7 linked regions of the Homo sapiens genome follow. The protein of the gene in region 5 purifies or fractionates together with the protein of the main gene of each other region. This does not show direct contact. Each region holds a gene or a part of one and is shown on either strand. Other genes may lie near its edges. The genes, in order: STAU2, RALY, ELAVL2, YTHDF2, NBEAL2, MTHFD1 and ZNF318.

Region 1 (3,500 bases), on a different chromosome or scaffold from region 5:
GTAGGAGCCAGATTATTAAGGGCTTCCTAGGTTATCCTAAGGAGTTTGGGTTCTATAGTGTAACTGATAAACTGGTGAAAGACCTTTAAGTAAGAGAATGTTCTAGCCTTGGCAAGATGGTAGAATAGGAAGCCCTGGAACACAGCAATTCAACAATAATTTATAGGCAATTTTTCTTTGTGAGAAATCCAGAAACCAGTTAAGAGGCTCCTGTATGCCGGGTGAGCATGAAACCAGCCAGATCTTAATTGGCAGGGAAATTTAAGATACCCTCATGCCATAATCCCTCCTCACAGTGCAGGGCCATACAATCAGGACAACCACCCTCCACCCCCAGCTCCCAGCTTCTTTCTGCCTAGAAGGGGAAAGATGTATACCACGCATCCAATGCCTTAGCTTTTCTGGGGCTACCCAGAGGACTGGCTTCTGTCTGGCCAGTCTCAGAGTGCTGACAGGACATGGCATATTTTAGCAACCCCGGGGCCAATGAAGAAAGAGGTGGCTGGTGGTGGTGGTCACTGTAACCATCCCCTGCTCAGCCCAGCACAAAGCTAACTGTTGAAAAGCTTCAGCTTTCAGCTTTTTCCTGGAGAGGCAAAGAGGAGCACCATGTATCCAATGACCCAACTTATCTGGGAGTTGCCTGAAGAATTGGCTTCAGTCTTGCTTGTCTCAGAGCTCTGATGGGACTGAGACAAGCAAGGGACTGATGCCTGGGGACTGCCAAGAACAAAGAAAGTGGATTAGACTAGCATAAAAGTTTGAGAGGCCTCCAGAATCTCTGTCCAGGCTGATTGGTTAGGATCTTCTCCAGTATGAGGCCAGTTTGTGCAGACACAAACACAGAGAATCAAGGAAAAATGAAGAAACAGGAAAACATTTCCTAAATAAAGGAATGAGATAAAGCTCCAGAAACTGACCCTAATGAAATGGAGATATGTGATTTACCTGACAGAGAATTCAAAGTAATCCTTACAAACATTCCCACTGAGGTCTGGTGAACAATGCATGAAAAAAAGTGAGAATTTCAACAAAAAGAAAACTTTAAAAAGTAGCAAGCAGAAAGCATGGAGCTAAAAAATACCATAAACTGAAAAAGTTACCAGAGGGATTCAATAGCAGACAATGTCAAGCAGAAGAAAAGGTCATCAATCTCAAAGACAGGTCATTGGAAATGACTGAGTCAGAGGAGAGTTGGGCTAGCCTCCAGCATTTCCCAAAGTGTTAGCTGTTTTATTCATGCTATGTTAAAGGCTTGGACAAAAAGTAAACTCAGGAATCCTGAGTTAAACCAAGTCGAATAGATTTTTGTTCTTTGAGTTTTCTGATTCTTCACTATGCTAATGTGTATTTTTAATTTCACAAAAGGCATTTGTATTATGTAATTTGCATTATTTTCAGTTTTTATTTATGGAACCATTTTATTTGGGGACCATGTTATAGAACACATTTTGGGAAATGGACACTGAGAATACTAGCAGCAGAGAAACATTGAAAGCTTGAATCAGAAGGTTAGCATCAGGAGAGGAAGGGGCAAGAACAGGAAATTAAGTTGTGTCTCTCAGAGCACATTCTTTATGAGTGGTGACTTACCAATAATTTTAAAAGATAATATCATTTGAGAGTTATTGATACCTGATCAAAAGATAAGAATAAGCAGTTTGAAATGTGGTTTGAAACTTCTCTGAGACAAATGATAGTCAAAGGAAAGTGCTTCTCTAATATGGTTTAAGCTCCATCAACTAATGACATAGCCCCCACTCCTCTTGATTTCAGAACCTGTCCATGGCCTGGCTTGAATTAATGCACTAGATAATCCCTACAATGGTCATATTCTTGAGATGTTTGAGCAACACGATAACTACTTGCTTATGAGTAAATCAGAGATGGTTGCCAGGAGTCTAGGTTGGGTCATGAGCAGCCACATGGTAGTATGAGCAAAGCAAGTTAGAGACAGTGCTAGTTTTGAGATGATACCCATTTGCTTTTTTATGTGTTCGTGAGTTAGAGTTGTCTGTGGGACATCCTTGTGGAGGTGAGAGGATCACTAGGCTGTTGAATACATGCGTTTGTACCTCCAAAGAAATTTGGACTGATTCAGCCTTTATTTTACCTGATGTGCCTCAATTGCTGTATGTGTTGGGGTTTCATGCCTCTTTTATGAGATATAAAATATTAAATTGCAGGGTGAAGACACTGCACATTCCTGATTTTCTGCCCCATTATACTTCCACACATTCAGTTTCCCTTGTCCCTTTATAGCTTCACTACTACACATAAGTCCCATTGAAACCACTTTTTTTGGATGTTTTTAAACCTCTAATTTTAGGAAAATTGAAATAGACATTATTCACCTTTCAATAGAAGCTGCAACTGCCTCTACAGTATGACAAAGATACTTGTTTGGCAGTGTTTCTCATTTCTTTGTTACTACACCAAGTAAAGCCATTGAGTTAATAATGCTATGTTTCTATTTCGGTTATTTTAAGTGTAATAACAGTGTTCTTCATTTTATTTATAGCTCCAAAAGGAATTCTTCATTTGTCTCCTGATGTTTATCAAGAGATGGAAGCCAGCCGCCACAAAGTAATCTCTGGCACTACTCTAGGCTATTTGTCACCCAAAGATATGAACCAACCTTCAAGCTCTTTCTTCAGTATATCTCCCACATCGAATAGTTCAGCTACAATTGCCAGGGAACTCCTTATGAATGGAACATCTTCTACAGCTGAAGCCATAGGTTTAAAAGGAAGTTCTCCTACTCCCCCTTGTTCTCCAGTACAACCTTCAAAACAACTGGAATATTTAGCAAGGATTCAAGGCTTTCAGGTATGAATTAAAAGCAAAAACAAAAAACAAAACAATTCATTAGCCTCAGATTCTTCATCTGTATACATCACAAGGCTCATTCTTGCCTGCTAGTATGGCCTACATGCCACTTACGTTTTAAGTTATTTAGGAACACAAAGGACAGACAAAAAAGCCATATGCACATGCCTCATTTTCTCTTATTTTTGATCTATCTAGTAATTCTTTTGCTGCCTGTCTCTTCTCCATTTTCCTTCTTCTTTTTTAAGCATTTTTCATATTCTTCACTGTCTTCTATTTGGTCTTGATTAGGTGCATCTATCTCTTCGCTCTGTCTTCCACAAACAAAAATTCTGCCTTCAGACATTTGGTGTTAGTATTTCACACTCAGTTCTCCCTTTTTTTACATAAGGATTGAGTTTCTTTTTATGATGATTTTACCTTTATAGCAATTTTGAATTTTGCATTCTATTGCTAGTATTGATTCAGGTACACCATTAAGATACAACATTCTAGAAGTCTATTACCTTAGGAGTTAATTAAACATGATATTTGAAGAATAATGAAATGCTTTATAGTTGTTTGAGGCATAACAATGTGTATTTGTTTTACTGGATCATGTTTTGAACTGACTAGGGAGGGTAGCACCTGCCTCAGATAGTACCAACAATTCTGTTTCACTGGGTAGTCTA
Region 2 (2,237 bases), on a different chromosome or scaffold from region 5:
GAAGATTATGGAGCCATGAGTGGAGTCTGAAGCCACGGATGAAGTCATCCAGGGAGCAAGTACATAGAAAAGAGGGTAGACAGATGCAGGCATATGGGTAAGAGTCAGCAAGAGACGGAGTCTTGCTCTGTCGCCCAGGCTGGAGTGCAGTGGCGCGATCTTGGCTCACTGCAAGCTCCACCTCCCAGCTTCACACCATTCTCCTGCCTCAGCCTCCCAAGTAGCTGGGACTACAAGCGCCCGCCACCACACCCGGCTAATTTTTTTGTATTTTTAGTAGAGACGGGGTTTCGCCGTGTTAGCCAGGATGGTCTCGGTCTCCTGACCTCGTGATCTGCCCGCCTTGGCCTCCCAAAGTGTTGGGATTACAGGCGTGAGCCACCGCGCCCAGCAACAAAACCTATACTCTTAACCTAGCCCCCTGAGAAGCACAGCAAGCTACTGAACCTCTGTGGGCCTGTGTCCTGGTTATCTACTGATACAACAAATCACTCCAAAAGTTAGCATCTTCAAACAACGTTTTATTATCTCTCATGGTGCTGGGCTTTGAATGGCATCAGTGAGGCAGTTCTTACTTTGTTCTCAGACGGTGGCTGGGCTGGAGTCATCTTGAAGCCTTCCTCTCTCATGTCTGACATTTGATACTGCTGTCAGCTGAACATGTACACGTGGCCTCTCTGTGTGGCCTGGGCTGCTTCACAGCATGGTGGTTGGGTCCCAAGAGCTAGAGTCCCAAGAGATAATAAGTGGAAGCTGCTAGTGCTTCAGTCTGGGACTGGGAGACTGGCAGAGCACCACCACCATCATATGCTATTGATCGGTCACAGAGTTTAGATAAAGGCGAGGATAGGATAGAGATGCCACCTTTACTTGGGGCCATGCTTTTAAACCTCATCTACAAAATCTATAGAATAGACATAACCACACAGTGGATGCCTGTTTTTGTTAGCCAAGCCTTGCTCTCCTTTTGGGGATTCTCCCCTCTGTCCCTCTATTCTCACAGGCCCTATGGCCATGCTCTACCACTTCTTGGAACCTGCCCGAAAACCAGATTTTTTCCCCTTGAGTTGGGGTCTCGCTTTGTCACCCAGGCTGGAGTGCAGCGGCAGGATCATGGCTCACCGCAGCATTAACCTCCTAGGTGCAAATGATCTCCCACTGTAGTCCCCCAAGTAGCGGGGACTACAGGCACGTGTCACCATGCCTGGCTAACCGGATTCTCGATGGCAGCTTTTGAACCCAAGTCCCCATGTCTGAAGATCCCTGGACTTTACAATTTGTGAGCCAATAAACTTCCTCCCACTAAGCAGGACTGAATTCAGTTTCTGTAACTTGTAACCAGAAGTCCTTACTACACCTACTGAGGGTGGTTGTGGAGATTAAGTAAATGTAAAATGTGCTTTTTAACAGCAGGTGTTCAGGAAATGGTTTACTGTTATGGAGGAAGTTTATTATGAAGAATCTGGCTACTGGTGGAGGGATTTTGATTTGCCTAAAACCTCAATCAATCAATGATCTGGTTGGGATGAAAACCAAGGATGCCTGGCTCAGAATCTTTTGCTCTGCTTTGCCTTCTCTATTTCTGTGGTCTTGTCAGACAGGCCTACTGCATATAACATCCTATGGGGCAGGTTATGACCTTACGGGTCAACCTGGCCAGGGATGGCAAATACCTGACGCTCACGTGCCCACACTTGAATTCCATGCTCATAAGAGAAACTGCCAAACTATCATGTCAGTATTTCCAAACAGTCTGAAAATTGCTGCAGATCCTCAAAAGGCACTCCAGGCAGCTGCTACTAAAAGTTCTGAGTTGGCAAGTGAAATGAGTCCTGAGGTAGATTTTTTAAATATGGCCATATTTTGAAGCTCCTCCTGTTAAGAAGAATTTGGGCTTAGCCATGTGACTTACTTTGGCCAAAAGATACGTCATAGCAATATCCTCAAGAGCACTCGCATACTGGGCTTGTCTTCTCTTGCGGTTTTTGGAACTCAGCCATGATGTCTAGAATCCTGGGTCAGCCTGCTAGATGCTGGAACGTGTGGCCCAGTTGCCCAGCCAACCACCTGACAGGCGGGCGAGGCCATCTGAGACCAGCCAGTCCCCAGCTGATCTGCCAGCTCACTTCAGCCACACGAGGGCCCAGATGAGATAAGAACCACCACACTGAACACAGCCCAAACTGCCAAGCCACTCACTCAGGAGCTAATAAATGTTTATTAAGGCTACTAAATTT
Region 3 (3,500 bases), on a different chromosome or scaffold from region 5:
AGACTGAACAAGAATCAGTGCTGTCATGATAAAAAAACATGAGGCAAAATCCAGAATAGCTTTTGAAATATCCAACAACCTGTAACCCCTCTGTGACTTCATTTCCTTGTCAAAGAAGTGGGAATTTATTCTACAAGCTGCAAGCTGTTTCTCTACGTAAGCTAAGTTTTCTCAGGGAATACTTAAAGGGATGAAGGAAAATAAACCTTTGGAAATCTGTATTTAAAAATCTTAAATAATTCAAGATATGGGTTTTATTATAATTAGCAAATCTATTTGAATTTGAAAAGGGAAGTTTCAGATTTCCTAATTAAACATAACTGTTCTGGTTTGTAGAATATTAGCTGTGGGTCACTCTTTTCACAGCAAAAATTCTTCTGGGGTTAACCCTTGCCCAGCAGTTATGGAAACAATGAGCTACAAGATTAAAGTGGCCAAAGACACTTAAATCACTACTGAAAAGTTTGGATGGGTGTAGAAACTACAAGAGACCCGAATGGGAGATTCGGACTAAAGCTCATTGGGATAGCATTTGAAATACAAAGTGTTCATTGACTGAAATCAGCAAGATTTAGAAAGGACAACAAACACTCCTCACTTAATTGCACATTTATTTCCATGTTCAGGTGGCAAGAATGAGCTCCTAAGCCAACATTCAAGTGAACAGCTGCAGTAGGCTGTGTGCGCTGAAAATTACAGCATCTCTCTGCTATAGGACCATCTGCTCAGAATAAAATGATACTAATGTGCTATATTTTACAAATAATGCATATTCCATTGATAGGCTCAACACAACTGTTCACAGAATGCAAACTCTTTCAACAGTTACTGGGCAAATAATTTTCAGCCAGATTTACAATTTCAACTTTTTTTTTGGAGCATAAAGAATTGTAAATAACTTCAAAATTTAGTAACCAAAAAAATACATAGTAAACAGAATGTATAGAATTACGGTAACTTAGTATTCAGACCATACCAAAACTTTTTTTGTTTTTTTAAAAAAGCTTGTCACTCTTTTGAGTCTGCGCTAAATCCTAATTTAGATTGTAAAAAAATTACATACGAGAGCATGGTTCTGATGCTACATACACCACTACAGTTAAAATTGCAATGTGCTTTAAGTCCTAATGATGGCCATACCACAATAGGTTAAATGTAAGAATAATTAGTATGCCAAATGAAAGATTCAAGTGTTTGGTATGGCCTCAGCACTCCTCCAACATGCTAAAAAAAAGTAGCCTACAGAATTTAAGAAAAATCCCACAGACCCCGGTCCAAGGCTCTGCTGCCCACGAACCACTTCTAAGCAGAGAAGCCACATCACACAGTCTGACTGCCATGTTAGTTTGGAGTTGCCGTCTGCAATATGGACACAAAAAGTACCGTATGTTAGATGAGCAAGATAATGCAACAAATCAGTTTGTACAAAATTTACAGTGATTGTATTGATATTCCCAGCACGTCCATGCAGTGTGGCTTAATTGAAATTGAGGCAATTCCAATCTAATCTTTCCAAATTCATTTCAACATGTAGTTTTCTTGCACAAATATAAGCATTTTTAATTAAGAGCCTGATTTTAAAACAGTATTAACTAGTTATCTTGGCATCTATTCTGAAGAACTAATGTAAACCACACCTCAAAAATTTAAAAAATAAAGTAAAATAAAGCAAAATACTGCAGGCTGTCTTATCTCTTAAGGATGTGGGAGAAGGGAGGAAATGTGAATGAAATTTTATAGTGGGAAAAAGTCATCATGCAATTCCTAAGTGATTGGTTTGCATAAAAGCACTCTTTCCCCAAAATATCAGAAAGACATTAAGAGAAGCTATATTTGCCCACACTGTTACATTATACTATAAATGATCCTTAATCCTGGGACTTAAAATTAAAAGTGAATCGAAACCCTGTGAGGTTATTTTGCCACTACAGTCAAACGGTTTCTAACAGTTTCAATGAGAATTGCTCACATATACTAAGAGGCAGTAAACCAGCATCTTTCAATTGAAATAATTGGACCGATAAATAGGATTGTTTGGAGTAATGCTCGCATAGGATGTCAGCTTTGTCCCTGAACGAAATCAAGTGAACATTTTTTAATATGTAAATTGTAAACCCAGCACGATTTGAAATTAGTGCTGCTATGAGGCCTCCAATATAGTTAATGGGCCATTTACCACTTATTGAAACTTGCCCAAATACCAAACAGAGCCATGATATTGGCACAAAAGCCAAAGTTTACTTTTTTTGCCATATATGCAGATGCTTCAAATGGTCAATATAATCAGAAAACTTAGTTTCTAAAAATAGACAGTGAATAACAGAAGAGGTCCAAAAATGTCTTTTACTTATTGATAATTATAAAAATTTTATCCTGAGAGGCAATCCTGGCTGTGATTTACTCTTGATATTAGCAATGCCGCCAGTAACGATGGATTCCACTTTCTGGCATCTATCAAAAAGGATTAACATACTTTTTTACAGGAAGCCATGAAAATATTTTACTCTTCTTCCGTTCTCCCACTGTAACAAGAGATTTTGGTCTGACCCTATGTTATTTTTCAAAAAACTACTTATAGTTTAACTGAACCTGTGAAAAAGTGCTTTACACCCATGAAAGATTTTTCATAAGAACCCAACTGTAGTTAAGACTACATGAGCAGGACCACACCCAGCAGGGTAAAGCAGGCATAAATGTATGTCCTGAATACCTTCAGGAGTTCAATCTAAACATTGCTCACTACATAAAACAGATTTTAATTTAACTGCCTCAGTCCCTTCTATTTCATAGGAGGTGGACACTAATGAGCTAATCTATTGACACCCCTCTTTCTGAAAGCCCCAGGGAGGTGAACAATCACTTTATTGCACCAACTAGATAGGAAGGCTGTGTATGGAAAATGATTCTACTGCACTTTTACATTTCAAGCACCCCAGACAGTCTTCTCCGCTTGAGGCAGACACATACCTTTATGGGAAGTTATAAATAAGTTGCTCACATGGCCCTTACCTTTATGCTGGCCAACAATTCAGTTACTAAAAATGTAAAGCTACTTCCCCTTCACTTAAGGACAGGCAATTCTGCTCTACTCAATCTACCACAGACAACTGGGCTGTGTACTATTTATAGATTCCACTGGCTCTGAAACTCTTCGGAAAGAAAAAAAAGGCCATATTCCAGTGAAACAGAGCCATTAATTTTAAGGCTTAAAAAAATAATGTTTCAATATATATTCTCCTCTTAATTTAGACATCACTTGTGCCAATTCAGACTGCTTTTCCTCCTGTTATTATCCAAGTAATAATTTACGAAAAGGCACTTTAGCATAGATGAATCTAGAATATTCTAAACTTTCACTGGGCTCCAAGGTAAAATGGCTGTTACTATGGTGAAAGCGTAGGTTTTATTGGGAAATAGAAGATTGTCTCTACTTTTATACACACAGGTACTTCCAAAAAGCCATAAAGACTTCTAAACTTTTTATTTAAATAATCCTTTAT
Region 4 (3,500 bases), on a different chromosome or scaffold from region 5:
CAGCTAATTTTGTATTTTTTAGTAGAGACAGGGTTTCTCCATGTTGATCAGGCTGGTCTCAAACTCCTGACCTCAGGTGATCCGCCCACCTCGGCCTCCCAAAGTGCTGGGATTACAGGCGTGAGCCAGAGCCTGGCCAAAAGCTAAATTAACAAAACCTAAATTTGCTACTTGTTTGTTTAGACAGAGTCTCTCTCTATCGCCCAGGCTGGAGTGCAGTGGCAGGATCTCAGCTCACTGCAACCCCTGCCTCCCGGGTCCAAGAAATTATCCTGCCTCAGCCTCCCAAGTAGTTGGGATCACAGGTACCCACAACCACACCCAGCTAATTTTTTTTTTTTTTTTTGTAGTATTTTTAGTAGAGACGGGATTTCACCATGCTGGCCTCAAACTGCTGGCTTCAAACTGCTGACCTCAAGTGATCGGCCCGCCTCTGCCTACCAATGTGCTGGGATTACAAGCATGAGCCACCTGCGCCCAGCCTGCTACTCCATTTCTAAACCCATATTTCTTCATCTGGCCCCAGCAATGCAAAATTGAAAAGAAAATCACCCTGTATTTCCCCACTGGCCCTAACACATACAAGTCTATCTTAACAACTATGCTGTGCATTAAATTCATCATTTCCTTCCTGCTTTTAATCACAAGATGTAGGACAGAATTTTATTATAAAGATTAATAAGATAGTACACATTTCAAGTGGACAAACCAAGCACCTAGATGCCCCTCAGACGTCTATAAATCTGCTATGCTACTAAAAGATGCCTAAAAGATCATGGCCTCCTTACTTGTCCCTCTAGAAACAGAAGCCTGATGACCATTTAGAGCCCTTCAGATGTCTAGCAAAAAGCACCAATAAACTATCTTTTTCTACAAAATACTGTAAATTTTATTTATTTTTGATACAGAGTCTCACTCTGTTGCCCCTGCTGGAGTGCAGTGATGCAATCATGGCTCACTACAACCTCTAACTCCTGGACTCAAGGGATCCTCCTTCCTCAGCCTCCAAAGTAGCTAGGACAACAGGTGTGTGCCACCATGCCCAGCTAATTTTTTCTTTTTTAGAGAGATGGGGTCTCACTACATTGCCCAGGCTGGTCTTAAACTCCTAGGCCCAGGCAATCCTCCTGCCTCGTCCTCCCAAAGTGTTGGGATTACAGGTGTGAGCCACCACGCCAGGCCAAAATATGTTAGTTTTTTTTTGGGGGGGGGGGGCGGGGGGAGATGGGAGTTTAGCTCTTGTTGCCCAGGCTAGAGCACGATCTCGGCTCACCGCAACCTCTGCCTTCGGGGTTCAAGTGATTCTCCTACCTCAGCCTCCCAAGTAGCTGAGATTACAGGCATGTGCCACCACACCCGGCTAATTTTGTACTTTTAATAGAAACGGGGTTTCTCCATGTTGGTCAAGCTGGTCCTGACCTCAGGTGATCTGCCCACCTCAGCCTCCCAAAGTGCTGGGATTATAGGCGTGAGCCATGACGCCAGGCTTAATATGGAAGACTTTAAGTTAAACTATTAAACTGTGGGGAAGAGAGGAGTTTAAAGGACTATCAAAAAGGAAGTTTATTAGCCAACTTTTCAATAATCTGGTTCTCCATTCCCAATGCTTTTAGTGTCACTGACAAGTGTAACTCCCATTTCTTATTAATCTGTACCCACTGAAAGATAAAATAGCAACCATCCCTACTTTAACAACTATGTACCTCCAAGAAGATTGTACCAACGAGCCCTTCCTCCACTGCTAAAAGGAGTAAATTCTCATAGAGCAGCCTAACAATGCCTCAGATCCTAGATCACGTATAAGATCCCTATGAATTCATAACAAATTTAAGGAAAACATTGCTTGTTAGACTTTATTTTATATTTGAGATTAATCAACTCAGGATTCTCTCAACCACTAATACACAGATCTTCAAAGAAAAATTTCTCCTTGCTCATAAACTTTTCACCTACTTCCTACATTTAACAATGTCTAGGCCAGCTGCAGTGGCTCACACCTGTAATCCCAGCACTTTGGGAGGCAGGGGCAGATCACTTGAGCTCAGGAGTTCAAGACCAGCCTGGGCAACATGGCAAAACCCAGCTCTACAAAAAACATGAAAAACTAGCCGGGCATGGTGGTGCATGACTGTGATCCCAGCTAGTCACGAAGCTGAGATGGGGGGATCACTTGAGCCCAGAAGGTGGAGGCTGGAGTGGGCGGACATCATGCCACTGCACTCCAGCCTGGGCAACAGAGAACCCTGTCCAAAAAAAAGTAAGTATAAATCCCAGATAATATATCATTATCTGCTCCAACCAGTTTTATCATCCTCTTATAATCCTAAAGTTTACATTCACTCAATACTCACAGAGCAAACGCTACCAACTCTTTCAAATTCAACTCTAGTTTGAATCCATTCCTCATCATTCTGCCCAAGATTCCCACTTGTTACAGAGGAAATCAGAAGTGACTCTTTTACACCGCCAATTGTCACAGGGAAGACAGAAGTGATTTCAAGAGTTGGTGATGACATATTGACTCTTGAAAATAACCACAAAACCCCAGCTAGGCCAAGTTAATCCAACAGAGAACATTTCGATTTTTCTCTGCCATATTATAGACTCAATCTTCTGCTTTAATTTCTATGGTTTTATCACTTCCATTACCCCTCTGCATCTCTTTGACTCATTCTTCACCTCTTTCTGCATCATGTACTGTTTCTGTCTGATTTCCTTGTACTGTTTTTGCTTTCCTTTCAAAGTCCGTATTTCTGTCCTCTACTAATGTTCTCACATTCCTTCACATTAGGGTTCAAGTATTAAAACCAATTATACTTCTATAAAGCCTTGAACTGTTAGGTGATACTGTATTCATTTACAGAGTTTTTATTAACGGTTCACTATATAATACCTCTTCTGTTCTCTCTGGTTCCTCCTTCCCTAAAAATCTTAATAAGAAGAAGTGGGTTACCTTTTTAACACTTTCTTCTTCCTCTTGGCGTTTCTCATAGTGTGAGAAGTCATCAAAAATGGAAGTGGTGTGCTTGTAGCTGGCTATAATTTTCAACACCTGCTTAGCCTTTTCCAGAGGCACTTCCTGAGTGTCCCTAGAGTTGGTCACTGGTTTATTCTCGTTGTTCTCTAGGCGAATGTGTCGCAGTTGGCTATTGGGAACGTCCTTCACAAAAATCCACCTGACATCAAAACGACCCTTCCATTTGTCCTGGGACCACACACCTGCACATGTGTTGTAGTCCACAGCAGATTTCATTTCTGCCACGCCACAGAAGTGTCCACTGCCGTTGACACTGAAAAGTAAGTAAACGGGGCCTTTCCCGTTCATGGAACGATAAGCAGCATCCAGTCTCTTGTTACCATGCTCTGTGCTGCACCAAATATTATACTTAATGGAACGGTGAATATCGTCCTCAGAGTAGCTCTTAATGATGAAAACCCGGCCATGTTTCAGATTCCAGTCAAAATCTTTGGGGTTATAGTTATTAATGGACCGAAGCTTC
Region 5 (3,500 bases):
GTAAGCTCTAAGAAAATGACCACATGCGGTGAACACATAGGGTTACCTCATGAAGACAGAGCCAGGGTAGGGGCTATGGAGGTTGGGGCCCACAGGTTGAGCCCCCAGAAAGGGTGCCCGCTGTGAAGCTGCCAGCTGACACCCTGCAGCCTCCTACAGCCCACATGCAAGGTGAATCAGGGATCACATCATCAGGGGCTGGGGGACACCCAGTGACCCGCTGAGGGTGGGTGCAAGAATCTACAGAAAGAAATGGCACCATGAGGGAGACCCCTTTCTCTGTGACTATAGCCAAATCCTTGAGTGTCTGGGCTTCTGTCTCCCCTTCTGAGAAATGAGGTAGGTGGCTGAGTTTCGAAGGTTCCATCCAGCTTGGCACAGCCAGACCCCCAACACCCAATCAAACACCAGGCAGGGGATAGACCACCTTCTGTCCTGTTCCCTAGGATGGGGACTTGGAAGGCAGGCGAGACAGCATGGAGGACCCACACCCATTTCTAGACCACACCAGGCCTTACACACATCTGCTCATTTCCCCAGCTATAGTGCAGGAAAAGCTCAAAGAGGGAGTCCCAGGGGGTGTCTGAGCTGGTCAGCCCCAGGATGGTACCTTTTGGACATCGGGCTCAGTCAGTAACCGGGTAGCCAGGTCACTGTCCCCCTCGGGGGGCGCCCGGGACTGCAGGTACAGCTGTGGGGAAGTGGGGAGGCACAGGGTGGAGGAGGCAAAGAAGAGAGGAGGAAGATGGGAGAGGGTGGGGTTAGAGCAGGACCAGGGGCAGCTGCCAGGTGCCCTGCCCGGCACTAGGGAAGAGTAGGGTGCTGAGCCCCCTGTGCCCTGCTCAGATGGGCAGTCGGGGGGATGAGCGGGTGGGAGCAGGCACTGCATCTGAAAGCAGTGGTGCCCTCCTCTAGCCCCTGTACTTGGGGCCACGGAAAGGGAAACAAGGCACCAGAGCAGCTCCCTTCCTTCCATAACAAGCCCCGCTTCCATGGGGCACAAAGATGTCCTAAGCCTCAAGCCCAGTCCTATAGAGGCCCCAAGGGATGGGCCCTTGTCCATGCCCCACACCCTCCCACTGAACTGCAAGCCATCCCACCAGCTGCAAAACACTGACTCTGTCCAGCCCATGTTTGCTCAGCAGCAGCCTGGCACCTATGCGTGGCTCCCCTAGCCTCTGGCTTCCAGACCCTCACCCCCAGGCTGGGCCCTACCCACCTTGCTGTTCTGAATGAGCCGAGTGAGGTGTTCAAAGCAATTGTTGCTGAGGAAGGTGGCTTGCAGCACTGGCCGGTCTTCACATGCCAGCATCATGGGGATGGCGTCTGTGGAAGGGTCAAGGGTCAGGCCCTGCCCAGACCCCTCTAGGCAGCCTTAAGCCTTCCTTCCTATGCTGCCCTATCCAGACCTTCCATCATCACTTAGGCTTTTCCCTCATGGTGCCCCTTCCCCAAGAGCCTGGGAGCCCATACCCACCGAGCATGCTGACCCGGAGGGTGACAAGGGCCTCTTCGGGGCCTGAGCTCAGACCAGCTGGCCAGTCAGCATTAAGGACATGGAAGTAGCTCTCAAGCAGGGCACGAAGCTCTGGGCCACGAGGAGGTGCGCGGCTGGCATGCAAGACATGGACTGCACCTACCAGTGCCTCTAGAGCCAGTGGCACTAGGCACGGGTCCGGGGCTGGCCCACGGCTCCAGCCCCGCACCACACTCAGCAGGCCCTTCACAGAGCCATCACTTACAGCCATCTGCCCGTTCTCCTGCAGGTGTGGACAGAGATGGGCAGTGGGCAAGGGGCTCACCCAGCAGAGAGATACTGAAAGAGCTGCTCTCTAGTCCACAGGCTCACCTCCCAGCCTACCTTTCCTCCAGCGAGGACGGCGCAGAAGAGGTGGATGAGACGTAACAGCAGTATGGGAGGCAAGTGGTCTGCATTCTGTAGGCTCTCTGGGTAGGGGGGTGTGGGCAGGGTAATGTCACCAAGGTTGCAGGGCTATGGACCCAGGGGGCTGCACAAGAGGTGAGTGCCCTGGGGTGGAGGGGAGAGGGAGCTGGGCCAAGTAAAAGATCCAGTGTGAGGGATAAGAGCTGGCTCTGCCCTGGGGGGCATCTAAGGAGTTATGGCTGTATAGTAGAGGGCCTGAAAGGGACAACCCTTCTTTGGGGGACTTAAGGGTGACAAAGACCAGCCCTGAGAGTCTAGCCAGCTTCCCAGATCCTTAAGCCCCAAAGTGAGGGCCCCAGCATGAGCACATACCCTTCCACTTCCCCATGATGACCAGGGCTTAGTTTCTCAGATGCAAATCTCTTGCTGCCTCTGCCCTGTGACGGTTGGTGCTTCCCATGCCGTGCTCTGGGGACTCTGCTGTATCTACTATACTGATGCCACCTCCCCCCACGCCCATGCCTTTGCCTGGGACTTCTAGGGGCTTTCACAACCTAATACGTAGGAGGCCCACCTGGCCCTGCGCCAGCAAAACTGGACAGGATGCCAGGCCAGGGACTGAAACTCAGAGGGCAGAAGGGACTAGCCCCGGGTCACATGCCTGGCAGAGGAGGAAGAGTAGGGCTGGGGCTTGATTCCGGCTGGATGGGTGGGAGGCCTCCTTGGGGATGGGGCTTTTGAGGGGAGACCTGAGAATGCAGTTGGAGGGGAGAAGGCACAGCATGGGCTAAGACCCTGAGGTGGGGTCAGTGGTAGCAGTCTGGGAATGAGAGGACAGAAGCCAGGCTGAGCAGCAGGGCAAGTGGAGAGAAAGGCTGTGGGAGGAGTAGGATTTCATCTTGAGGACGTCAGGTTGACATCAAGGGATATGATGGGAGGAGAAATGAAATCCAGTTTGTTTTAATAACAGCACCCAGGCTATGGGAAAATAAAGTCGAGGAGCTCCCTAGGGGTGCCTCCCCTCCTGGAGTTGCTGCCCCAACTCTAGATCCAGGCCCACAGCTCCATGGGGGCATCACTGAGACATTTAATATCCCAATAGGTCACCACCTTTTCACAGCCCTGCCCACCTCTGTCCAGGCCATATCCCACCCTGAGCCTATCTAAAGTCCTGGCCAGTCTCCCTCCAATGAGAGGAGAGAGGGGACCCAGGGGTGGAGGGTCACCAGGGAGAACAGGTTCACAGGACCACCTGTGAACAGGCAGCCACAGCTGTCCTGGGCACCAGATCCTCCAGCAGCCAGGGAACAGGAGGTGGAGATACCTCCTGTGTCTCCGGGATGGGTGGAGATGCGTGGAGGCTATGGGGACAAAGGGATTGGACCAGAGAGTTTTAAGATCACAGTAGGGTACAAGTGGCTAGAAGGATCCAGGAGATGGCGGGGAAAGAGGATGAGAAATCTGGGTAGGCAGGTTGACCCCACCCCTCCACCTGATGGGAGGCCCTCGCTCCAGCCCAAGATGTCTTCTCTTGTCTCTGTCCCTAAACTCTTGCTTGGTCTTTGGTTCTCCCAGTCCTGCATGCAGCCACCACCAAGTGGTTCCTGTGTATGGC
Region 6 (3,500 bases), on a different chromosome or scaffold from region 5:
ATGTGGTCAGTGGAAAAAGTGACCACTACTCAGCCTAAGCATATGACCTCAGTAATGAGCAAACCTTTTGGTTATCTACCCCCAGCCCTAGAATTTCTCTTTCTTTGGGAAATCACATGTACAAAAATCAACTAAAGATCCAGCTGAGCCCTGACTCTTCTACATTTAATTTGGGGACCCTAATAATAGAGGCCAGTCCAGAAGCAGCTACACTGGATAGGTTGAGACTGGATTGCATTAGGGTGGGGAATCTGTTCCCACTTTTTAACCCTTCCAAATAAAACACTATTGATCTGGCCCTTCTCAATTTATCTTTAGTAAGCCAAGCAGGAAGAGCACTTTTATGTGTTTCTCTGGCCAATACTTTCTGCCCTGCACTTGAATCTTTAAAAATATTACTTCTTTGTAAAAGGTATACACACCTTGATTCATTCTTAATTTGGCAAGTGACTTACAATGTTATCCCTGAGTGGACCATGCAAACTATTTAAATAATCAAAATATGAACCAAGAAGTAGCTCGGTGGTAGAAAAGTTTGCTTCTAAAGTGAACATTTGCAAATATCAGTCTTTAGGTCCTGCAGCCCATTTGCTGGTCTGTAACTGAGTGATTCTGCCATCCTTTGGGGAACACAATAACATCCAGCTGTATCAGCATTAATTTGCCTATATGCCCAAGATCAGTAAAAACACTGTTGACCAGAAGGGAAGATACTGCTTTGATTTTATTCATATTTTATTGTCTACATAAGGAATCAATGTGAAAAGGATGGCAAGTTTCATGTTTAAGTCAACATTTCCTACCTATCTGCAACACTCAAGATCCCCACTCAGGTTTTTCTTCTCCATTTCTCACATGTAATCCAAAAAAAAAATGCCAAAAGCAGAAATATGATACAGAAGATGCGAGGTTTTAAAAAGACTGAGCTTGCTGGGTGCGGTGGCTCACGCCTGTAATCCCAGCACTTTGGGAGGCAAAGGTGGGCGGATCACGAGGTCAGGAGATCGAGACCATCCTGGCTAACATGGTGAAACCCCGTCTCTACTAAAAATACAAAAAAAATTAGCCGGGCGTGGTGGCGGGCGCCTGTAGTCCCAGCTACTCGGGAGGCGGAGGCGGGAGAATGGCATGAACCCGCAAGGCGGAGCTTGCAGTGAGCCGAGATCGCGCCACAGCACTCCAGCCTGGGCAACAGAGCGAGACTCCGTCTCAAGAAAAAAAAAAAAAATTAAAAAAATAAATAAATAAAAAGACTGAGCTTGAATGTCATATCGCAAGTATTCAAAGTGAGGAGTTGTAGGAGAGCAATTTCTTTATCGCCTGTTAGATAATTACACTACAAGAAAATGAGTGATCAATTATGAGCTACTGTCTTAAAAGCACGGTAGGGAGAGTGGGAGGGAGGTTAAAAACGGTGAAGGCTTGACAGTGACTAATGTTCCTGGCAGCTCAGCGTCTACATCTGAAACTTGAGATGGGAAGGGAGAAAAAAGACTTCCAGCTATAACTCCCTTCGACAATTCAATAGATATGAGTGCCAGTGGTCAGATGGCAGGAAGCTGGATGTGGCGCCACAGTGACCACTGCCCTTGAGGAGCTATCTAGGCAGGAGAGCACAGGACGCCGTACATGAGACACATGCAACAAAAGATACAATACACATGTTCTATGGGAGAGGAGGGAGGGAGAGAAGGAAAGATCATCCCTTGATAAGGGGAAATCAAACAAGGTTTGGAAGGAATAACAGACATGACAGAGAGGAGATGGGGAGGAAGCAGCTGAAGGTGAAGGTGAAGTTGAACCTTATTCAGTTGTGTAGCCCAAGGCCTGGCATTGTGCTGGATACACAGTAGTTGCTCCGTTAAAGATTGTTCCTTTCTTGGATCTATGAGGACGTACGCAAGTTTTGCCCTATTGTTCTGTGAAGTTTTCTGTTTGAAAGAGTAGCCCACTCCACTAAGAATGCAGGTGAGGGAACTACAAAGGGCAAACGAGGCATGCGCAGGGAAGGGAAAGTGGTCCACTTTACAAGTTGAAGACAGGTATTCACCATGCGCAAGTGAGATCACAGGCTGCAGAGGTCACTGAAATTAGTGTGAGGCTAAGGAGTCTGGCAAGTAAGAAGGAAGAGGCTCAGAGTTCCATGCCAGAAGGTGAACGTGGCAAGGCGAGAGCACGGGGATAGATCTGAGTGGGAAGCAGCTGGAGGGAGGGACACCTGCAAGGAAGTTATCACAGCCCATCAGCTGAGAAGGTAACACTCAGTGGTGACACTCAGAACAGAGGAGAGAGAAAACAATTCCTAATATTTAGAGACTGGTCCAATATAGGGAATGCTTGGGAGGGAAACTAAAAGGCTTCAGACTTGCGGGAAGGAAGAATGGTGATACTAACCAAAAGACGGGAGTAAGGGGTAACTTGGGGATGAGGATGCCGAGTACAGTTTTGGACATGATTAAAAGGCTAGATTTATCCTCTCAGCCTAGAAAAAAACCCAGGTCAAATATCTTCTTTGTAAAGCCCTCCTCTTGGCAGAATGAGTCCCTCTTCTGGACTCTCATAGCACTTTGCAATAATTATACTGTATTTTAAATCCATCCATCAACTTTGCTAAAATAAAGGGTGATCTCTACATGAAGATAAAGTGATATATCCCTCCTGCCCTCCCTCTCACTTTCTCCCTGGACAAAGTCATCTTGGAAGCTGTACAGCACATGATGAAAATCAAAGGCTCTGGCACCAGGCAGACCTGCCTGCAAGTGGCAACTCTTCTATCTACTAACTCTGTGCACCCTTGGGCTAGTCAGTCTCCTAAACCTTAGTACTACAAGCATAAAATGAGACAAGCTTCTCTCTCAGGCTTCTTTTGATGACCTAGATACCATCCTCAATACCAGCAGCCACCTTACTCCTCCAACAACACTCACCTGGGACATAATTGATTCCACAGTCGATGACTATTGCCCCAGGTTTGATCCACTCCCCTTTAACCATTTCAGGCTGACCAGTTGCAACCACCAGGATGTCACCTTTATTTACCTAGGGGTAGGGGATTTGGACATCAGAAATGAAATAATGAAATACACACCAAAAAAAAACCCAGAAATGAAAAGGATATCCCTGAGCTTTGTATTAAATTCTTAAGTGTCATAAGCTATTTCATAAGATATTGGGTTAAGGCCTCAAATGTAAGCCACACACTGTTTCTGACAGCCCTTCACATGCCGTGCTCATTTCTACACATGCCAAAGAGCTCCCTTTCACCAGCCATTTTACCCAATAGGGAAATCAGTGTCAACCTGCAAGGCAGAGGGGCAAACAGGCTTGGGGCCCTGCGTGTTATGTCCAGACACTGCTCCTTCTCCTACAGAATGTAGAGCACTACTTTGGGAGGATTAAAAGAGAAAGTACTAGGCCTCTCTCCTGCTCTCTCCCCACATTTAAGAGACTGCACTGTCAACAGGCACGTGTGTGTGTGTGCGCATTCTTGGGCTCAGGAA
Region 7 (3,500 bases), on a different chromosome or scaffold from region 5:
GCAAAGACAAACACAACTGATTTAGTCTTATGCAGAATCTCAGAACATTAGTAATTGAGATAAATACTTAAATACTTTGGTCTTCCTGAATTAACAGGTGAGATACAAGTATGGATAAAAGGGAGGAAAAGTATCCTTAGCCAGATTCAAAATGTGAATCCCCTTATCTCCAGATGTTTCTACTGTTGAGGAGAAACAGGAAGTGAGGCAAACTGGATGGAATCCTCACCTTTATCTATTTGTTAAAAGGAATTTGAATTCAAAAGAATTTTAGAGATCCCCTAGCTTGTTTTCTTTTCTATGGATCCCCAAAAGAAAAGGAAAAAAAAAGCTGCTTTGGCTGAAGTGGGGAGAGGAAACTCTGGAACGCTAACTCATCAGCATTCCTTTGCTTGGGAACCTCTTCAGAAGCCTTTATCTCCTAAGAGGACAGCTAAAAACTAGTGGTCTTTCCACTAGTGGTCTGACCATCCTTTCACAGGTCAGGGAAAAATATCAAGGCTCAGAATGGTGAGGTGACTTGTCTAAAAATCACAGTAAGTTGGTGGCAGAAGTGGGTCCAAAATCAGAATCATCTGATTTCTAGTCCAGTGTCCTACAACTCATACATCTTGTCTTCTCTCTAAAGAGAGATGAGAAAATTGAGATCACCTCCTCCCCTTGCCCTTCAAGGTTCATTTCCAACAAACCCATACTCAAAGATTGCCAAAGGATAATCCAATTTAAGTAAAAAAACTTACAGTACTCTCCAAAATATCTATTTATTAATATAAAGCCTAATATACAGCAATAGAACCCTCTACTGATGCATTAAAAGGCCTACAGTTTCGTTTGGAGAGTCCTAGAAGGTGTAGCTCACAATGTCGGTCCAGCACATATTACAAAGATACCATTAGGAACATAGCCCACAGGAAAGTAAGCAGGCTTTAAGATATTAGGGAGACTAGCAAGAGGCCCTACAAGAAATGCAGCAGAGACCTGCATGGAGGGCTCCATTATGTCCACCTCAATCCGCTTCTTCAAAATGGATTTCTTGGGCATCACAGATACTTCCTCAGGCCGATGCAAAGAATATCCTGGCTCCGATGCTGTTAGGACACCTGACAATCCAGGGATGGAACAGCCAGTACCACCACCATCAACTCCAACCAGCTCCTGACTCAAGCTCCTACTTCGCTCCTCCTCTTCCTCTCGCTTTCGTCTGGCAAGATCCAGTTCTCGAAACTCAGGGTCGAGAAACCTAGGACTTGGGCTTCTTCTACGCTGTCGATAGTTGCGAGTTCCTGATGTAAAACTTGGGTGATCCCCTCCCATGCTGTTTATCTTCACTGTGTCATCATAACGGGGTCTTTTGGCCTCCCGGCTCCTTTCTTCAGATCGTATGGAGTAGCCTTTGAGTTTTTCTCGATTCCGTTCTGTTCCCCGCAACAGCTCATCATGACAACTGATATGGGGACTATAATCAGATCGATGCAGGAAAGTTTCTTTTGTTCGGTAGTCCTCATCAAGTTGTCCCAAGAAGGGACTGAGAGGCCCTTCCTCCTGGGAAATATATCGCTCAAGACCCCGAGAGCACTGGGAGCTTCGAGTGAAGACAGAATCATCAGTCAGGTCATCCCTGAGGAAAAAGAGAAGCATCATTGAACAAATGGACTTGGAAAGAATAAGAGCAGACAAGGCTAAGAGACTGGTGTTTGTCAAGGGGGCTATAAAATGCTTAGGGCAAAAGACTATAATCATGAAGTCCAAGAACATTTCCTCTCCCTTTCCCCAGGGGAACAAGCAGCTTTAGCCTCTAACCAAGAGGTAATATTACCAACATATCTAGATAGATCTCTTGGGTAATTTCTCCGACTAGACTTAGGGCATGCAGAATATCATGGAAGTTACACAACTCCACACAAGCTAAATTCTAGCTCTTTGCTACTGAAAGTGTAGTGCGGACGAAACAGCATTAGCATTACCTGGGAACTTTTTAGAAATATAGCTTCTCAAAGCTCCACCCCAAGCAGATCTGAACTAGAATCTGCATTTTAACAAGATCTCCAGGTGATTTGTCTGTACTTTAAAGTTTGAGAAACACCAGTCCAGATCAATGGGATTTTTTTGTTTTGTTTTGAGATGGAGTCTCGCTCTGTCACCCAGGCTGGAATGCAGTGATGCAATCTCGGCTCACTGCAAGCTCCGCCTCTCAGGTTCACGCCATTCTCCTGCCTCAGTCTCCCGAGTAACTGGGCCTATAGGCACCAGCCATCACACCCGGCTAATTTTTTTTTTTTTTTTTTTCTGATTTTTTAGTAGAGACAGGGTTTCACCATGTTAGCCAGGATGGTCTTGATCTCCTGACCTAGTGATCAGCCCGCCTTGGCCTCCCAAAGTGCTGGGATTACAGGCATGAGCCACCGCGCCCAGCCTGTTTTGTTTAAGACAGAGTCTTGCTCTGTCACCCAGGCTGGAGTGCAGTGGCATGATCTCGGCTGACTGCAACCTCTACCTCCCTGGTTCAAGTGATTCTTGTGCCTCAACCTCCTTAAGTAGCTGGGATTACAGGTGTGCACCACCATGCTGGCTGACTTTTTGCATTTTTTTAGTAGAGATGGGGTTTCACATGTTGGCCAGGCTGGTCTCGAACTCCTGATCTCAGGTGATCTGCCCGCCTCAGCCTCCCAAACTGCTGGGATTACAGGCGTGAGCCTCCACACGTGGCTCAGATAAATGGTTTTAAAGCTGTGTTCCAGAGGTTGTAAAGAGTGCTCAGGAGCTACCAAAAGAAAGGAGGTACTAGAAAAGCAGAACCAGCAGGGCTCTTGACCTTCTATCCCAGTTAAATCACACTAATTCCAACTTTAAGTCTGTATATTAAGGTTCTAATAATTCAATTGGGAAAAAAAAGTATCACTATATGGTAACTTTTAAAAAAACTACTGATTTATCTAATTAGCATGATTTTCTCATAAGATTTAGAAGGTTCTCCAATGCTTTGCCTTGATGGTTCACATATTAAAACCCATAAAGCTCTCTCACAGCCTGTTTTGTCACCCTCTTTGCCTTCTCTGGATATCTACAAGCACTCTGCTAATCTTGGGCTTAGAAAAGAGAAAGTGATGGTTTGGTTCACCATATATTTTTATTTCATTAAATACAAAGGTCTCAGACCTTTGTGGCATGAGGTAAAAATCCAGGATGGGACAGCTATTCTTTTAGCTGAGAATTCTATACCACACCCAATAATGCTAACCTTCTCAGGGGCTATGGCTATGACACAAAACTAAAGTTTCTGATTTAAATCACAGATAGAAATAAAGATCCTCTAGCACTTTATGTATGAAAACTTCTAAGTACTCTGAATAAAAAATAAAAGTTCTTACATGTCACTCACATTCCAGAGTGAATTATCATCTAGAGGATGGTAACTATTAGTGTCTTCTACAGTTTCTAGTAGCTACTTTTGTTGTGAGTTTCTAGAAATGACTTTTCCTTAGTTTTTTTAGTAGTTGCTT

What was found.
Region 1: the proteins of NBEAL2 (region 5) and STAU2 purify together in Homo sapiens (tandem affinity purification; one large-scale study listed by IntAct). This does not show direct contact.
Region 2: the proteins of NBEAL2 (region 5) and RALY purify together in Homo sapiens (tandem affinity purification; one large-scale study listed by IntAct). This does not show direct contact.
Region 3: the proteins of NBEAL2 (region 5) and ELAVL2 purify together in Homo sapiens (tandem affinity purification; one large-scale study listed by IntAct). This does not show direct contact.
Region 4: the proteins of NBEAL2 (region 5) and YTHDF2 purify together in Homo sapiens (tandem affinity purification; one large-scale study listed by IntAct). This does not show direct contact.
Region 6: the proteins of NBEAL2 (region 5) and MTHFD1 purify together in Homo sapiens (tandem affinity purification; one large-scale study listed by IntAct). This does not show direct contact.
Region 7: the proteins of NBEAL2 (region 5) and ZNF318 purify together in Homo sapiens (tandem affinity purification; one large-scale study listed by IntAct). This does not show direct contact.

Annotation. Positions count from the first base shown.
Region 1 is NC_000008.11:73,551,341-73,554,840, reverse strand, and holds part of STAU2 (double-stranded RNA-binding protein Staufen homolog 2), read left to right. Parts: intron 1-2,521; coding exon 2,522-2,829; coding exon of another isoform or gene 2,830-2,835; exon of another isoform or gene 2,836-3,500. UniProt on the Homo sapiens protein: RNA-binding protein required for the microtubule-dependent transport of neuronal RNA from the cell body to the dendrite.
Region 2 is NC_000020.11:34,083,148-34,085,384, reverse strand, and holds the end of RALY (RNA-binding protein Raly), read right to left. Parts: 3' UTR 501-2,237; downstream 1-500. UniProt on the Homo sapiens protein: RNA-binding protein that acts as a transcriptional cofactor for cholesterol biosynthetic genes in the liver. Binds the lipid-responsive non-coding RNA LeXis and is required for LeXis-mediated effect on cholesterogenesis.
Region 3 is NC_000009.12:23,763,741-23,767,240, forward strand, and holds part of ELAVL2 (ELAV-like protein 2), read right to left. Parts: intron 1,360-3,500; coding exon of another isoform or gene 1,269-1,359; intron 1-1,268.
Region 4 is NC_000001.11:28,743,440-28,746,939, reverse strand, and holds part of YTHDF2 (YTH domain-containing family protein 2), read right to left. Parts: coding exon 2,954-3,500; intron 1-2,953. UniProt on the Homo sapiens protein: Specifically recognizes and binds N6-methyladenosine (m6A)-containing RNAs, and regulates their stability. M6A is a modification present at internal sites of mRNAs and some non-coding RNAs and plays a role in mRNA stability and processing.
Region 5 is NC_000003.12:46,989,666-46,993,165, reverse strand, and holds part of NBEAL2 (neurobeachin-like protein 2), read right to left. Parts: intron 3,498-3,500; exon of another isoform or gene 2,274-3,497; coding exon of another isoform or gene 2,258-2,273; intron 1,948-2,257; coding exon 1,862-1,947; intron 1,761-1,861; coding exon 1,478-1,760; intron 1,327-1,477; coding exon 1,220-1,326; intron 692-1,219; coding exon 611-691; intron 1-610. UniProt on the Homo sapiens protein: Probably involved in thrombopoiesis. Plays a role in the development or secretion of alpha-granules, that contain several growth factors important for platelet biogenesis.
Region 6 is NC_000014.9:64,419,353-64,422,852, reverse strand, and holds part of MTHFD1 (C-1-tetrahydrofolate synthase, cytoplasmic), read right to left. Parts: intron 3,040-3,500; coding exon 2,928-3,039; intron 1-2,927. UniProt on the Homo sapiens protein: Trifunctional enzyme that catalyzes the interconversion of three forms of one-carbon-substituted tetrahydrofolate: (6R)-5,10-methylene-5,6,7,8-tetrahydrofolate, 5,10-methenyltetrahydrofolate and (6S)-10-formyltetrahydrofolate.
Region 7 is NC_000006.12:43,356,148-43,359,647, forward strand, and holds part of ZNF318 (zinc finger protein 318), read right to left. Parts: intron 1,619-3,500; coding exon 979-1,618; intron 1-978.